2 separate regions of the Homo sapiens genome follow, and region 2 is linked to region 1. The links come from fine-mapping of genetic effects on gene expression. Tissue or cell type: whole blood. Region 1 holds a variant in brackets; the other region holds the start of a gene. All regions are shown on one strand. Distances are from middle to middle. Region 1 overlaps ALKBH5 (alkB homolog 5, RNA demethylase). Region 2 holds the start of ALKBH5 (alkB homolog 5, RNA demethylase).

Region 1 (8,813 bases):
TCTGCCTCCCCAACCCCTGTTTCAAGTTTAAGAAAGTAAAGGGATTAAGGAAGCACCAAAGGCAAGCCCTCTCTTACAACAACATCAGACAACTGTTTCAAAATATATTAGATTTGGTTTTTATTGTAGAGCACACATATCAGGGCGAAGTGCTGCACACACAACTACAAATCATTTTTGGGAAAAAAGCTGTAAAAAAAATAAAACTGCAACTGCTTTAATTATGCAGTCCCGACTTGAGAAATCCACGCTGGCAAAGGAGTTCTGGCCCCTGAGAGGGGCTTCTTGATGGTGGCTGCCCCAGATTTCTGCAGCCTATGAGGTCTCAGACCCGGACCTCTGTACACAAAGCCCCCAAAGTGGTGGTATCCTGGTTGCTGGGAGGGCCTCTGCTCTTGGCAAGCCCGGGTCCTGGCCTGGCTGACAAGAAGACATTCCTAATGAATCTAGATCCACAAAACCTTGCTGCCTTCCAGGATCTGAGTGGATAGAAGCTACCAAAGACTTTACCTTTTTTTCCTTATTATTTTTTGAAAGCCCCTTCACCAACTCCCATACCCTGAAGCGGAGGAGGCACCAGCCCAGTCTGCAGGCCTGAGCTCTGGCCTTGGATGCATGCTGCCGGCAGACAAGATGGGGCAGGCGCCTTCCTAGAAGGATGACATGAGGATGAGGCCCAAGCTGGCCAGTGGAGAAGGGAAGGGAAAGGAAAAAGCCAGGAGACTAAAGGGGGAAAAAAAACTCAAAAAAGAAAACAAAAACCCTACCACACACCACAACAATTTTCCATACCCCAAATGCTAGACTTGGAAGGACACCAGTCCCTCTAGCTAGAAACAATTTCTAAAACTGACCCAACGTGGCAAGTCTAACTGTTCCAAATAATCACACGCATATGCTCAAAAGGAGCAACCAGCAAAGAAGTGTGCTCTTGATAAGAGAGGTCAGGACCACTGCACTAGCCCCTCAGCAGCCCAAGGAACTGTGGACATGGCAGGCTAGTGGGCGTGGGTGGAGGACGCCTGGGGGGCTTAACAATAGCTTTGGGATGGCAGGGGCTGGCACTGTTTAAGCCCCTGCCCAGGCAACCTGAACAACTCTGCCGCAGGAGGAAGAAAGGGTGTTTGCATGAGCTTGCAGGGCGTGGATGGCAGGTGAGAAGTGGAGAACAGCAGAGCCTGTGAGGCTCCAGGAGACCTCAACCAAGTGCAGACATCAGTGAGGGAAAGGGGCGAGCAGAAGACTGAACTTTGTTTAGAACACTGCGAAGATTTACACTGAAAGCAAAATAATTTTCTTAACCAAAACATTTTGTTGCTTTTAAATAAACCCAGCCTGATACAGCCCCACTTAAAAGATGGCTGCTCTGCTCCACCACCTCTACTGGCCACTCCAGCATCAGCCTCTGTCCCCTATTGATGCCAACAGCCTTTCCATCCAGGAGGAATACCAAGAATATGAGAACCTAGGTCCTGGCCAATTCTATTCTTCAGCCCTAACAGGCAACAAAACCAAGGAAAAATATATAGAATCAAAAAAAACAAAAAACAAAAAACAAAAACCCCCCAATGAACAAAAACAAAACCCTCAAAACAAAAGGAGGGGCAACTACGTAAGGATGAGCCAGAGTTCCCAGGAGGGCGGCGGGTAGACTCAGTGCCGCCGCATCTTCACCTTTCGGGCAGGGCTGCCTGCTGCCTCAGAGCAGTCCTCTGAGGACTCGTATGACTTGCGCCAGTAGTTCTCAGAGCTGAAGCTACCCCTCCGCCGGTGTGTGGGCAGCAGCACCGAGCGCCGGTTCTCTTCCTTGTCCATCTCCAGGATCCGTGGCCTGCAAGGAAAGGGAGGTAGGACGTTATCTGAGAGGCTGGCAGGAGGCGCCTGGCTTTACCGCTGTACCTCGTCTCATCCTTGGGATGGGTCACTTCAGCTCAGTGGTCCTCAACGAAGGGTAGTCCTGGCAGAGGCCCTGGTATCGGAGGTTCTTGCCCACTAAGTGCCAGTGACCATCCCAGTCTTTGGGACATTTCCCAATTACCCTGTGGGGTCTGCCTGGCTTGGAGTCTGGTGCCCTGGGACACTGCCAGGGCTGCTGGACAGAGGTCTTCCCTACCACAGCCTCAAGACTCTGCATGGTTCTGCCATCTACCTTTACTTCCCAGCTCTACCCACTTTCTCTCTCTTGGGCCTCCCAACACCCCCTTCTCCACTTACTAACCCCATTACCCCCTGAAACCACAAAGCTCTTTTGTATCTCAGGGTTTAGCTCATACAGTATTTCCTGCCTAGAATGCTCTTCCATGTCTTCCTTATCCTTCTGGAATCAACTTAAACATTACCTCCTTGGAAACCTTCCCCAACACTTAAAAAATATTTTTTTTTTTTTTGAGACGGATTCTTGCTCTGTCGCACAGGCTGGAGTGCAGCGGTGCCATCTCGGGTCACTGCCAGCTCCGCCTCCCAGGTTCACGCCATTCTCCTGCCTCAGCCTCCCGAGGAGCTGGGACTACAGGTACCTGCCACCACGCCTGGCTAATTTTTTGTATTTTTTAGTAGAGACGGGGTTTCACCGTCTTAGCCAGGATGGTCTCGATCACCTGACCTCGTGATCTGCCTGCCTTGGCCTCCCAAAGTGCTGGGATTACAGGCGTGAGCCACTGTGCCGGCCAAAACATTTTTTTTCCTTTAAAAAAAATTATCTCCTCAAATACCTTTTATCCAATCCTTTTTGAAATAAGTCCCTGGTTCACTATTATCCAAGTCCCAAGATTCCCTCCTGACATCTAAGTATAATTCCACAAGGGTGTCTGGGTGAGACTGAACAAGGAAAGTCATGGGAAAGCCATGATATTGCCATCTGTTACAGTCTCTGCCTGACCCCTTCTCTCTGGGTGTACAGGCAGTTGGCCAGGGTTAGATGGGAATGTCACCAATGCCACCAACCCAGAGGAACCAGACATAAGGTTTTGAAAGGGTGAGCAAGCCAAGGCTCCTAAACAGCCTACCCCAGGCTTCTCCACCCTTCTCACCCTGCAGCCAGGCCTTTGCCAGCCTTTGCTGAGGGTCCTAAACTGAGTACCTGTGGGCAGCATCAGGGTCTGCCTTGCGGTGGGACCGCTTGGGTTTCAGAGCAGGGTCCCTGTTGTTTCCTGACAGGCGATCTGAAGCATAGCTGGGTGGTAACACGGAGCTGCTCAGGGACTTTGTTTCCAACCGGGGTGCATCTAATCTTGTCCTGCAAAGGAAACATGCATGGGGTCACCAAAGGGCCTCCGGTGAAGGTGTGGGCACCATCAGACCAATTCTCTGGCCAGGCCAAGTGGGAGCCAGCTAGACCTGGAAGCCAGCAGTCTCTGCTCTGTACCTCACTCTCCTTGAGGTTCAACTAGAGATTGGTCTAGCTGACTTTCAAAGACCCTCCTCAAGTCCACCTTTAGGAGTAAGGAATGGGAACACTTCTGTCTGGAAACTCCCAATGACAGGCTGTGCTACCCTAGGGGCAAGATCCCAGGGCTCGCTCTTAGCTGAACCAAGCAGCCTCACCTCACTCCACTTGGACCCACAGGTTCTCTGGGGCCATCTACTTCATTTGCCAGAGGACCAACGGCCCCACTGGTGGGTCCCAACACAGGAAGGATCCCTGGTCCAGGCCTGTAGAGGGGCTGGAGAGAAAGAGAGCCAGAGCTACCCTATCTTCTCACTGTGCAGACAGGGATGCTGAGACTGAGTGGCAGAGCCAGGGTAGGGAACCCAGGCCCACTCCACAACCATGAGCAGTCATCTGGCAGTTTCTGCTCATTTCAGGATGCTGACAAGGTAAAGGCCAGAGGGCTTTTGAAGGCACAGTCCCCACCAAGCAGCAGGTGTAGCCATAGGTTTCAAGGAATACACTGCCTAGTAAAGGGAAGGCACACAAATACAGATGAGGAAGAGGGGGATGGAGAAGCTGGGTAGCGGTAACTCAGGGCAGTGATCCAAGTCCTTTATGAAGCCAGAACAGAAGGGAGCTGGCATGGAAAACCTCAAAGCCCTCAGGCTCCTTGTGTGGTACAGAGAAGGCTGGCAAGTCAGGCAGGTGGGAGCAAAGGGCAGAAGGACCCATGTAATAGACTGGGTGGGAAGCGATAGGACATAGCTAGCAGAGACCCTGAAGGCACCTTTTCCAGGGTCTGCTAGACACAAAGTAGTAACTTAGTTCCGAAGGAGTAGGGGCTGCAGTCAGAGCAGGACTCTAAGGATACTAGAGGATGCTGGGGAGAAGTAAGCAGGAGGGAAATCCAAGAACTGCCTTGGGCTAGGCTGCTTGGCATCCTTGGTAACAACTGCATCTGGTCCTCAGTTTCCCCCATTCCCCATGGCTGCCTCTCCACATTCCACTGGCTGGCCTACTGTACATAGATGGGAAGGATCAGAAAGGCAGTAAGTCATGCATCCTGCAAGTCACGGGGGAAAGTTTAAAGCCAAAGTGAGACTTCAAGCCTGACAGGCAAGAGTTACTCTGAACGTGGGTAGGAAATCTCTCTCCTAAAGGCAGCAGGGGCATCTCCTTCCTTCCAGCTGGGAACCAATGTTCTGATGCCTCAGGCCCAAACTGGTGGGTAGGCAGGTAGGACAGGCATCCCCATCCCTTTGGGTTGGCCTTGCAGAGGGGGATGCCAGTAGGGCCCAGCTGCAGTGAGTGACTCTTCAGTCTCAGACTCCACTCTGGACTCCTCCAGACTCATGGATGCAGAACCTAACATCAACAGGAGGATGATCTAGTTTTGGCACTGCCATTCAGAGTCCAAGCTAGTCACCATCCCTCCTCGGGCCTCAGTTTCCCCATCTGAGCAAAAGAAAGAAATGTGACTAGCTCTAAGGCTTCTTTGCGCTGAGGGTCTAAGGAATCGAAGGCAAGTTGCCTCCTTCAAGGCTGGGATTCTCTGGGTAGAGGTGGTACTGGGCAACTACCAGAGATGAGTAT[G/A]TGAAATAGAATAGAACCATTCTTTTTTTTTTAAAGAGAGATCGTGTTTTGCTCTGTCGCCCAGTCTGGAGGGCAGTGGTATGATCATAACTCACTGCAGCCTTGAACTCCTAGGCTTAAGGGATCCTCCTGCCCAAGCCTCCCAAGAAGCTAGGACTGGGCCACCATGCCCGGCTAATGGTTTTTTTTTGGCGAGACAGGGTACCACCATTTTGCCTAGGCTGGTCTCTAACTCTTCTAAGTGATCCTCCCACCTCAGCCTCCCAAAGTGTTGAGATTACAGGTATGAGCCATCAAGCCCGGCTCCAGATGAGCTTTTTATTTTTATTATTATTTTTTGAGACAGGGGCTCCTTCTGTCGCCCAGGCTGGAGTGCAGTGGCGGGATCTTGGCTCATTGCAACTTCAAGCGATCCTCCCACCTCAACCTCCCAAGCAGCTGAGATTATAGGTACCCGCTGCCACACTCGGCTAATTTTTATATTTTCAGTAGAGACAGCATTTCACCATGTTAGCCAGACTGGTCTCAAACACTGGGGCTCAAGCGATCTGCCCATCTCAGCCTCCCAAACTGCTAGGATTATGGGCCTGAGCCACCACACCTGGCCCAATTACCTTTTCTATTTTTTTTTTTTTTTAAGAGAGTTTTACTCTTGTTGTCCAGGGTGGAGTGCACTGGCACGATCTTGGCTCACTGCAACCTCCGCCTCCCGCGTTCAAGCAACTCTTCTGCCTCAGCCTCCCGAATTGCTAGGATTACAGGCATGCACCCCAACGCCTGGCTACTTTTGTATTTTTAGTAGAGATGGGGTTTCTCCATGTTGGTCAGGCTGGTCTTGAACTCCCGACCTCAGGTGATCTGCCCGTCCTGGCTTCCCAAAGTGCTGAAATTAAAGGCGTGAGCCACCACGCCTGGCCCAATGACCTTTTCTTTACCAGGCTTCGTGTCATCAAGTTGAGAGGTCCAGGTGGCAGAAATCAGACTAAATAAAATGTTAGCCTTTATACTTGACTTAAAGGACTCTAAGGGCCTCATTGAAGAAAGTCCCTCCTCTGGTACCCATAAAGCTAAGACTCTATAGGTGCCAGGGAGCCCATGTTCAGGGAAGGAAGGCCCCTGTGTGCCCCAAAAGCCCCAGTGAAGCCCTAGTGGGGGCACTCTGGAGTTGTTTCTTCGGGTGAATGATGGATGGTAGGAGAAAAGCAGAGCCACCAAGATGAGAGCTCTTGACACATCCCCTGGGACTGTTATAAGTACATCTCATAACAGCTGGAGAAGCTCCTGCCCTCCCTACACTTCCAAAAATTCACCAAGCTGCAGGATGCCAGGCTAGAGCTTGACTCCAAGCCCAGTGCCCACCAGTAGCTTAACTTCAGAACATGCCCCTGTTAAAAGGCAACCAACTCTCATGGCGTAGGCCAGGTCCTCAGGGTTTAGCAGAGAGTCACAAATCTGGATTCAGGAGGCTCAGTTCTAGCAGTAAGGTCTGGACCCAGGCCTCCTCAGGTGGCAACAGGAATGAAGACCTGCCTTACAGATGAGTCAGTATTCAAAGGTCAGAGCAAAGCACCTCGGGCATGTGACCTCGGGCATGTGAGGTTGACCGTGATACCCAGAGCGGCCACCTACCGTGTCAGGACAAAGCAGGGACAAGGGAGGTCACAACAAAGGATGGCTGTAGCACTAAAGTGTGAACCGAAGGGAAGGGAGGGAGTTGATCCTATCCTAGGTCCTCCAGAGAAGCTGCTGGGGTGAATTATTCTCCCTGTAGGGACTGGAGAGCAAAGCTAAATCCCAGAGCAAATCACTAGCTTGAGTCACAAAGCTACTACCTACTACTCTGTGATGGCCTCTAAAGCACAGGTGGGGCCAGGCACAGTGGCTCACACCTGTAATCCCAGCACTTTGGGAGGCCAAGGTAGAAGGATTACTTAAAAGCCAGGAGTTTCAGACCAACCTGGGCAACAAAGTAAGACCTTGTCCCTATTTAAACTCTTTTTTTTTTTTTTTTTTTTAAAAGACAATCTTGCTCTGTCTCCAGGCTGGAGTGCAGTGGCACGATCTTGGTTCACTGCACCTCCACCTCCCAGGTTCAGGCAATTCTCCTGCCTCAGCCTCATGAGTAGCTGGGACTACAGGTGCACGCCACCATGCCCAGCTAATTTTTGTATTTTTAGTAGGGACAGGGTTTCACCATGTTGGCCAGGATGGTCTTGATCTCTTGACCTCATGATCCGCCTGCCTCAGCCTCCCGAAGTGCTGGAATTACAGGCGTGAGCCATCGTGCCCGGCCCTAATTTTTTTTTTTTAATTAAAAAATAAAGTGCAGGTGGGCCCTCCTCAGTGCAAGAGAACACTGTGCATGCAGGTGGCAGCACCACCATTTCTGGGAAGATGGTAAACCAGACCGCACTCAGGCCACGATGACTCTGGAGCGAGGGCAGTCCCCAGCCAGCTACCAACTACTCTCCAACGTCTGGCACCACCTTTACCAGGCATCCTTGTGCTAAAAGCTTGGCTTTCCAACAAAGCGAGGCAGAGACCAGTATTGTGGGCCTGTCCAAGCACCCTCTTGCCTATTTAGTAACCTGGGTCCCTAGAGCTAAGGTCTAAGCTCCAGCACCTTTGAGAATCAGACTCCCACAAAGCTCAGGTCTGTACCTTGCTGGCTCTCCTGCAGTAGTACCCACTCCCCTCACGGGACTCTCCCCACCCATCTTCCACCAGCCCCCTGCCAACATCAGACTTCTGTTTTTTTTTGTTTTTTGTTTTTTGTTTTGAGTCGGAGTCTCGCTCTGTCGCCCAGGTTGGGGTGCTGTGGTGCGATCTCGGCTCACTGCAACCTCCGCCTCCTGGGTTCATGCCATTCTCCTGCCTCAGCCTCCAAGTAGCTGCAACGACAGGCGCCTGCCACCATGCCCGGCTGATTTTTTTTGTATTTTTAGTAGAGACGGGGTTTCACCGTGTTAGCCAGGATGGTCTCGATCTCCTGACCTCACGATCCGCCCGCCTCAGCCTCCCAAAGTGCTGGAATTACAGGCGTGAACCACCGCACCCGGCCAATTAATTACTTTCTTTGAAACAAGGTCTATCACCCAGCCTGGAGTGCACGGGTGGGATTACAGCTCACTGCAGCCTTGACCTCCTGGGCTCAAGCAATCCTCCTGCCTCAGGCTCGCGAGTAGCTCGGACTATAGGTATATGCCACCACACCTGGTTTTTTAAATCAATCAATCAATCTATCTATCATCTATCTATCTATCTATCTATCTATCTATCTATCTATCTATCTTATCTATCCTATCTATCTATCTATCTATCTATCTATCTATCTATCTATCTAAGATGGAGTCTCACCCTGTAGCCCAAGCTGGAGTGCAGTGGTGCAATCTTGGCTCACTGCAACCTCTGCCTCCCATGCTCAAGCGATTCTCCCAAGTAGCTGGGACTACAGATGCATGCTACCACGCCCGGCTAATTTTTTGTATTTTAGTAGAGATGGGGTTTCACCATGTTGCCCAGGGTGGTCTCAAACTCCCGCGCTCAGGCAATCCGCCCACCTCGGCTTCCCAAAGTGCTGGGATTACAAGTGCGAGCCACCGCACCCAGCCAGGAAGAGTTTAGAAGACCACCTAGCATTCACAAGTTTAACCACAACTGCCCAATTTACAGGTGCAGATAAGACTGCATTTGGAGAGGAGTGGCAGAGCCAGGGCAGAAGCCCAAGTTTGTCACCTTCCTGGTGATCCCATTGTACCCATATTCCTTGGGCAGGCCACAGACACATCAGAACAGTCAGGCTGCCAAAAGGGCAGGGTGTATGCACGTGGACACAGACTTACTGAACCAG
Region 2 (8,813 bases), 21 kb after region 1:
GCAAGGGCAGCCAACCCCCCTGGCCCAGAGCTCCTCCTGACGGTGCACAGCCCTGACTTCATCCTGTGGTTCCTCCCCCTCCAGTGGAATCAGAAGAGTCCACACAAGAGATGTGGCCCAGGACCTATCTGCCCTACTTTCCCAACTATTTTAAGCCAGAAAGCTAAATTTTGCTTTCAACCAGCTGAACAAGATCAGACTATCCCAGAACTGACAGGGGTGCCCACTCCACCCAATACCAACCGTTAACTGGAAGAGTCACAGGCTGAGCTCACCAGTGCATGCCCCGTGCCTGGGTGATACAGTCATTTCCAGACGGCTGGCCTAGGCCTGGGTCTCTGGGCATGTGGCCACCACACCACAGACCACGTAGCAGTGATTAAAGATAGCAGCAAGTAAGCAATTAGCCTTGAAGTAATTATTCTAATTAGTCCAATCAGAGTCTGTTTTAATCTGCCCCATGCAGCCAACAGGGAATAGGAGAATGAATGACAGATAAAGTGATATGAAGATAAAAAATATTTCCCTAAAGTACAGCCTTAAGAGGGGATCCACCCAGGCCTAACATGGGAAGGTTACAAAAAACAACTGACGACTAGGTTTGGAAAGGAGTTTGAAGCACTTCCAGAAGATTCTGTGAGGCCTTGTTCTAAATGCCCAGGTTTAGACACTGCTGAGTCAATGTTTGTGACGCACCAACATCCATGCTGATCACTATTAAATATAAAATTGTATTCTTGCCATGCGGTCTTAGAGGGGTACAGATACCATTGCCACCAACACCAACTGAAGTCTAAGATGCCTACTACTAGAATCCCTCCCCATCTGCACCGCACCACTGTTTTCACCAGCCCCTCCCTTCCAATCTGCAGCTTTACTGCTCATCACCTCTGGGCTAGGATCTGTACCAGGAAAAGAGAAAGCACCACTTCTTACCAGTTTATATGCAGGATTTGACGACGGGCACTACTAATAGGCAGGTGTTCACCCACCTGCATACCAAGGTAAGCTAAGTATGCAGGTGCAAGAAGATTTAATTAGTGGAAGGGTCCAGACCCTAGAGCAGTGACTCTCAACTAAGGATTCTGCACTTCCCCTGCCTCGGCATTTGGCAGTGTCTGGACACTTTCTGGTTGTCATAAAAAACACTATTGGCACCTAGCAGATAGAAGCCAGGAATGCTGCTGAACAGTCTACAATGCACGAACAGCCTCAACAATGAAGCATTATCAAGCCCTGAATAACAATAGCACTGTTGAGAAGCCCTGATCTAGAGTTCACCAGAGCACCCTCAACCACAGTCTCTACTAATGAACTCCATCTGCCTCCCATCAACATCCACCCCCTCTTACCTATGGCTACTCCTGCTACTGCAGCCAAAGACACTGCTGTTGTGTATTTCTCCACCTTTCTCTGCTTGGCTCATTCCTAGTCACTTTTCACATTCCAGTTCATTTCCTCCCCTAAACTTCCAACACTCCAAAGTGGAAAAGATGTCCCCCTTCAGTGTGCTTCTGCAGTTACCTTCCTGGGCTATAACTTATCCTCCTGTCTGAGGCCTCCATGGGGCTTGAACTACACGAAGGGAAACTGTCATGTTTCAGGCTCCACCAAATCCCTAGTTCCTTCCCCAGTGAGAGAGCAGGGGATCACTGAGTGGTTGTATATGAAAGCAAGCACCCATTTAAGTACCTACCCTGTGCCAGGCCCTATCTTAGACAACAAATCACCACATTTAATTCTAATAGGCTTTGGAAGTTGGCATCATCCCCACTTACAGATGGGAAAGCCAGCTCAGAGAACGCCTACAAGATCCCAAAGCAAATGAGAGAAAAGCTGGATTCAAAGCCTGGGGCAGCACTTTTCAGGACATGGCTGAGCCTCCCACACTAACACCACAGCCAAGTCTGAATCCAGAAAGGGTTGACAGGGACTGGGAAAGCTTTAGGACTTTACTATTCTGAGGAAAAGATGAAGAGAATTTTCCTGATGATGCAATCCTGTTGCTGATCACTAACAGACCTGCATACTAAGAACTCGAAACTTCTGTTCTTAAAATACAGGGTGGGCATGTGTTAAGGAGAGTAGTAGTCCCAAAACCAAAAAAAAATGCCTTGTGATCCCCTCATTAAGCACCAGACCACTACTAGACCTCCTGACAACCACCCTGAGGGCCAATGACTACGCAGAAAATTAATATCCCGCTAAGAGACCAAATGGTCCTTGTGTGAGGTAATTTTTGCACTGAGAACCCGTCAATGGGGTCAGACCCCAACCTGCCTTACACAGCAAGCACCCGGAGAGGGTGTGTCCTGGAAATCCCATCTTAAAGCATTTTGCCAAGACATCCATCTAGGAGCGCCATGAAGATCTGAGAAGCTCAGAAGCCCATTATAAGAAGGCATCTGACAGCTAGGCTGTCCTCTAAGTTTCAGATGCCTAAAGAGCTAAAGTATCGCTTCTGCTACTACTGACTTCCCACCTTCCCACCAGGACGTCTTGGACATTACAAGGCTCTGCTGCCATCCCCAACATGGAAGCAGCCTCAGCTGTTAGACTCAAATGAAACAGATGACCTAATCTCATATCAAGAAGGCTCCAGGGACCCTGCTTCTCCTCATGACTTTGGCCCTACTGACTCACTTCAGAACCTGGGCTGCTCACGACAAAAGCCCAGTGTGTCCTCAACCTTGTATTTGGTGGTGGTCAACCAAGCTGCTCTGAGAACAGCTGCGGTCTAAACCTAAGATGTTTTGGGTATTACTGAATTACATTACTAGGTTTACCTTTTTCAGGACTGGAAGGAGGCCGCTTCCAAATAAATTTTCACTTCACATAAACAGCAAAGGTGTTCCCAATGGCAATCTCCTCTGGGGGCCAGGGCACTGAGCTAATTCTCAGCAGGATCTGGGAACCGAATATAGGCCAAAAGCCTAAGTTCTGCTGCTCACGCAACTGTAAGGCCAAACAGTCAAGAGACCAGCTGTATTCTGTTGTATTCAGTCCTGACTACAAGTAACACGTTCTTACAAAGAACTGATGGGCTCTTCTGCAGCCAGGAGGGAAGAATTTTAAGAGTGTGCTGCTCTGTATGCCTGGCCCAACCACTAATCTGTTCAACTCCAGGGAAGTCACTCCCCCTCCTGGGAATGGAGAATGTGCTTCAATTAAATAATCTCTGGGGCCTTTGCCTGTGACTACTTTCTCTGTTAAGGAATCCAAAAATGGCAGAACAAGAAAGACTTTTAGATAAATTAAAAAAAAAAAAAATTTTAAAGCATAGATTTGTAAATGGAAGGCCAGAATGGAAAACCGGAAAATCACAAAGGGACTTATGCTAAGAAATGGATGGTGGGAAAAAAAAAAATCAAAGGGAACAGCCTTCTGAAAAGATGGCTTTCGATGAATTCTCAGCCAAGTCAGTGATCCCGTCAAACCTGCCTTCGGGGACAGGATTTCCACATCGGTTCCCTATTTTCTTGCTATAGGTATCTTAAACACAAAACCCTTCTCTCGCTCCCTACAATCTACAAACAGAAGAACTGGTCAGAACTGTAAAAAACGCAGACTCCTACGGGCTGCTGCTTTCTGGGCCAGGGTGGGTAGCTAAGGCAGCAGGCGCAGGGCCGCCCCCTCCACCCGGGTGGGTTACCTGAGCACAGTCACGCTTCCCCTGCGCACCGGCAGGGAAAGCACTGGTTCCGACACCCGAATAGGCTTGAACTGGAACTTGCAGCCGAAGCACAGCGCAGAGTCGCTAAAGAAGGACACGGACACGATGGGGCGCTCGAAGATGTGGATGGGGTCCACGTGAGACACGATGCAGCCGCCGGGCTGGTAGTCGTTGATGACGGCGCTGTTGACGAAGCCCTCGGGGATGACGCGGTGCTCCACCAGCTTTTGGATCACCAGCTGGTGCACCCACTCGGGGATCTCGTCCACGTCGCCCGGCGGGTAGAGGCGCTCCTGGCCGGGCCCGCGCTTCTGCAGCTGGGCGCCGTAAGTGTAGCCTTCGCCGAAGAAGTACTTGTTGCGCAGTGGGGCCCGGTCCACCGTGTGCTCGTTGTACAGGCCCTTCTCAGCGCGGGACACCACCTCGTCAATGCGGGCCTCGATCTTGGCGCACTCGTCCTGGCTGAAGAGGCGCATCTGGCGGATGCCGCTCTTCACCTTGCGCGCCTCCTCCTCCTTCTGCAGCTGCTGCTCCTCATAGTCGCTGCGCTCGGGGTCCGAGTCCTCCTGATACTTGCGCTTGGCCCCGGACACAGGGTAAGGTTCGGCGGCAGCGGCGGCTGCGGCTGCGGCGGCTACGGCGGCTGCGGCAGCGGCGGCGGCCTCCCGGCTGCCCGCCTTATAGTTGTCCCGGGACGTCATGGACTTGAGCTTCTCACGCAGGTCCGTGTAGCCGCTGGCGGCCGCCATGGCCCCCACGACGCTGCTCTAGGGTCCTCCGGGGCGGGCGGGGCAGCCGGGCATGGCTCTAAGGGGACGCGCCCCGGGGCCCCCGGAGGGAGGGGGGTCCTTAGCGCCGAACCCCCATGCGTGAGTGGGGGACCCGGCGGGGGGCGTCGAGGGTCCGGGCGTGGGGTAGGGCCTCAGGAGCGGCGGGTCATGCAACGGTGGCGACAACGGGGCTTCTTCCTCCTCCACCTTCTCCACGTCCCGCGGGGCAGGGGCGCCGGCAGCGCCTCATGCCGCGGAGGGCTGCTGCGGAGACGCGGCCCGACTCCCGACCAGACCCTCGGACGCCCGGCCCGGCCCGCACTTTAAAGCTCTCCGCACGACGTCACGGGCAGCCAGCCCGACGTCCGCCAGCGCCGCTCCTTAGCGGGCTCCTCACCGCGCACGCGCAGTGCTGCCGGCCACCGCGGCTCCGCGCGCTACGGGCATGCGCGTGCGTGCAGGCCGGGTCGGCAGAGGCGCCGGCGCAAGCGCAGACAGGAACCGCTTGCCGTCCGCCGCCCCTCCCCCACTCTCTGAGGGGCTTCAAGGGAACGCTCTCAAATAGCAACCTGTCTTCACGCCGCGCCGCCTCCAGGACCGAAGGGCTCCCTCTACAGGGGTGCGCTCATATTGCCAACAGTGTCGCCGTGCCGCGTCACGGCATCGTCCGAACGCCCGCAGACGCCTCAACCCCAGGGCGCATTCACCAGGGAACCGCCACAACGTAGGCCGCTCCGTTACCTCCCCCTTTGGCGCTTCCACTTCTTTAATTGGGCCGTGGGCCACGCGCCGGGCAGGCCCTGACTGGAGTTTCCGGAAGTCGGTTGGTAATCATGCGTGTCAATCAGGCAGTCTCCTTAGCTACTGTGTCCGTCACTTAATTAGCGGCTGGGCGAGCAGCGAGGACCCCTAAAGGAGAAATGGGTGGTTAAATAAGTGCCTGAATGGAGACTCCACCTGAGTAAAGCCCTTAGAACGCCTAAGGAAACTTCTGAAACCCGCGAAAACTTCTCAGACTGCGGGACCTGCAGCACCCGGCCCCAGTTCTGAACCCAGATAGGAACGTCCGGCAGAAGCCAGACGCGCGTTGTCGGGGTACAAGCCAGCCTGCCGCCGCTGCCGCCGCCGCCCGGAGCGGACGTTTCACGAGTCACGTCCCGGTGACGGCGAGCGTGGGGGCGCGCTGGGGTTGGCGTCGAGCCTCCTTGGTGCTGGAGATGGGCGTGGGGGCACCTCCTACGGGGACTCTGGAAGAAAACTCCAGGAAACGAACGGGCGCAAGGCTAAGGCTAAGCTATAGATAATGACTACAGTCAATTCAAAAAAGTTTTGAAGCAGTCAGCAAAGGCGTTGCCGGGCGCGGGGCCTCACGCCTGTAATCCCAGCACTTTGCGAGGCCAAGGCGGGCGGATCACTTGAGCCCAGGAGTTTGAGACCAGCCTGGCCAACATGGCAACCCCATCTCTACAATAAAATTTTTAAAAATGAACTGGGCGTGGTGGCGCGCGCCTATGGTCCTAGCTACTCAGGAGGCTGAGGTGGGAGGATCCCTTGAGCCCAGGGGATTGAGGCTGCAGAGAGCCGAGCTGGCGCCACTGCACTCCGGCCTGGGCGACAGAGCTGCAAAACAAAACAAAAAGGCGTAGCCGTGCAGGATGCACTGGAGGGCTCCAACAAATGGGGGTCGGGGGGGATCTGCTGGAAAATCTCCCATGTCTCCCAGGATAAAGTTCCCCTGCTTTATTTGGCACTCAAAGCTTTTCTTCAAGACTCTTCTGGCCTTGGCTCCTCCTCTCCTCTCTTTCCATGTACACTGAGCCCCAGCCTGGTCCTCATCCTGTAAGCCAGGTCTACAAACATACTGTGTCTCACCTCCTGGCCTTTGCCCAGGCTGTTTGCCATGGCTGTTGCCCATGCCAGTTCCTTATCACCCGTCTCCCTCTCTCTCTCCCCCTTCCCCTCCTCCTCCTCGTTCTTTTTTGACAGAGTCTCTGTTGCCCAGGCTGAAGTGCAGTGGCACGATCTTGGCTGACTGCAATCTCGACCTCCCGGGTTCAAGACATCCTCCCACACCTCAGCCTCCTGAGTAGCTGGAACTATGTAGAGGCGTGTACCACCACACCCCGCTAATTTTTCTGTTTTTAGCAGAGATGGGGTTTCACCATGTTGTCAAATTGGTCTTGGAACTACTGGGCACAAGATCCTCCTGCCTCGGCCTCCCAAAGTGCTGGGATTACAGGCGTAAGCCACTGCGCCCAGCCTGGAATGGACATTTTTTTAAAAAGCTTATCAAGTTTTTACTATGTGCCAGGACCTGTGCATATACTAGCCCAATTAATCGTCCAAACAATTCAATGAGGAGGGCATTATTATTATTACCATTGTATATATAGGGAAACAGGCCCAGAGAGGTGAAATGACTTGCCCAAGGCCATACAGCGAGTATGTGGCCTAGTGATGATTCAAACCCAGGCTGCCTGGTTCCAGAATCTGTGCTGTCCCTCACCGGGGCTCCGAGAGGGGAGAGTCCTAGCTCAAGAGCAGTCAGGGAGGAACACAGGGAAGCTTCCAATGCAGTGTCCGTTATGGGAGAGGCTGTGTCAACCTAGAGAAGAGGTGATTCACATTTTGGCTCAACCTGGATGATCTACTTCCAAGAAGCCGCTTGTAGTCTGTGTGGGAGGCCCCAGTTGTATTCTGAAAGCCAAAAGGGCCCCCTCGTTTTCACTCTGCCACATCATCCCTTCCTGAGCCTCATAGTTCAGCTTGACTAGGGAAAAGGTTTTGGGGCAAAAGAATTAGCCTGACACCCCCTCCCCCTCACACACACCATGTATGATCTCACAACAATGAGAAATGAGGGGCAGAGGGCAGGCCTCAGGGCTGCCTCATGTTGGAGCCCACTGTGCTCTGTTTTGGGGGTCCCTATACTGAGCATCAGCGCCGCAGGCAGAACCCCAGGGGTTAAGTGAGCTGCTGCCAGGCATGGCCCCTGCACAGTGGTAACTTGATTGACACCACACTCTTTCTGGTGAGTTCCTTACTTTCCTCACCTTGGGGTCTGCTTCTGGGGAAAGCCAACCCAAGGCAGTGGTGAAAAGCAGGACAGCCCTGTGGCATTTGTATCAGGGGCTCTTTCTTGATCCTCTCCATCCCAGGATGGTCTGATTGACCCCCTAGTCCTGCCAGCTGGGCCTTCTAATCTCTCCCCAGTTACCAACTTCTCCCCACCCATCACCACCACTAGAATCTATGACAAGTTTTCCAGCTAACACTGCAGCAGCCCCCTCTGGTCTCCCCAACTCCTACATTCACTCACCGTTCAGTGGTCAGAATGGCTTTAACAAAGTACAGTCTGTGCAGGTTGTGCCTCCCCTTCCCCCTCTGGAAAACCTTTGAAGGCTGCTCATGGCTCTTGGGATGAAATTCTAAATTTTTTTTTTTTTTGAGACCGAGTCTCGCTCTGTCGCCCAGGCTGGAGTACAGTGTCGCGATCTCGACACACTGCAACCCCCGCCTCCTGGGTGCAAGTGACTCTTGTGCCTCAGCCTCCTGAGTAGCTGGGATTACAGGTGCATGCCACCATGTCCGGCTAATTTTTGTATTTTTAGTAGAGGAGAGGTTTCACCATGTTGGTCAGACTGCTCTCAAACTCCTGAGCTCAAGTGATCCACTGGCCTCAGCCTCCCAAAGTGCTGAGATTACAAGTGTTAGTCACCATGCCCGGCCCAGAAATCCTAAATTCTTTTTTTTTTTTTTTTTTTTTTTTGGAGATGGAGTCTCACTCTGTCACCCAGGCTGGAGTGCAGTGGCATGATCTTGGCTCACTGCAACCTCTGCCTCCCAGGTTCAAGCCATTCTCCTGCCTCAGCTTCCTGAGTAGCTGGGATTACAGGGGCAGGCTGCCCCTGTATATTATTCTTATTTTAGTAGAAACGGGGTTTCACCGTGTTGCCCAGGCTAGTCTCGAACTGCTGAGCTCAGGCAATCCGCCTGCCTCAGCCTCCCAAAGTGCCGGGATTACAGTCATGAGCCACTGCGCCTGGCCCAGAAATCCTAAATTCTTAATGTAGCCCAGAAGCCCTATCGAAACCATCTTTGCCGGCCTCTTCAGTCTCAGATCCTGCTACAAGTAATGCGCACCTCAGGGCCCCTGCGTATGTTGTTCTCTTTCCTCTTTCCCTAGCTAACTCCCACTCACAGGTCTTATCCTAGTTTGCGGTGATTTGACTGTGATTAACTGCCAGTGCCTGGTATTTGCCTCATTCACAGTAGGTATTTAATAGCTATTGAATGGCTGAATAAGTAGATAAATCCTTTCTCTGCTGCCATGGATCTTGCAGCTATGCCCCCATCTACCTATCTAGTCT

What was found.
Region 2: it holds the start of ALKBH5, and the variant in region 1 is fine-mapped to the expression of ALKBH5 in whole blood (INTERVAL, PIP above 0.99).

What each region holds. Positions count from the first base shown.
Region 1 is chr17:18,201,237-18,210,049 of GRCh38, reverse strand. ALKBH5 (alkB homolog 5, RNA demethylase) reads right to left here. Exons shown (of 4, transcript NM_017758.4): 3 at 3,080-3,235; 4 at 96-1,831. The coding sequence ends at 1,654. Among named protein-coding and RNA genes, the nearest start is that of LLGL1, 20 kb to the left of the region's middle. The variant G/A (reference allele first, on the strand shown) is at 4,964.
Region 2 is chr17:18,179,853-18,188,665 of GRCh38, reverse strand. ALKBH5 (alkB homolog 5, RNA demethylase) reads right to left here and starts at 4,838. Exons shown (of 4, transcript NM_017758.4): 1 at 3,653-4,838. The coding sequence starts at 4,422. RefSeq lists silencers at 2,688-2,737, 3,961-4,112, 4,271-4,360, 4,441-4,740, 6,877-7,171 and enhancers at 4,006-4,843, 4,951-5,190, 5,251-5,450.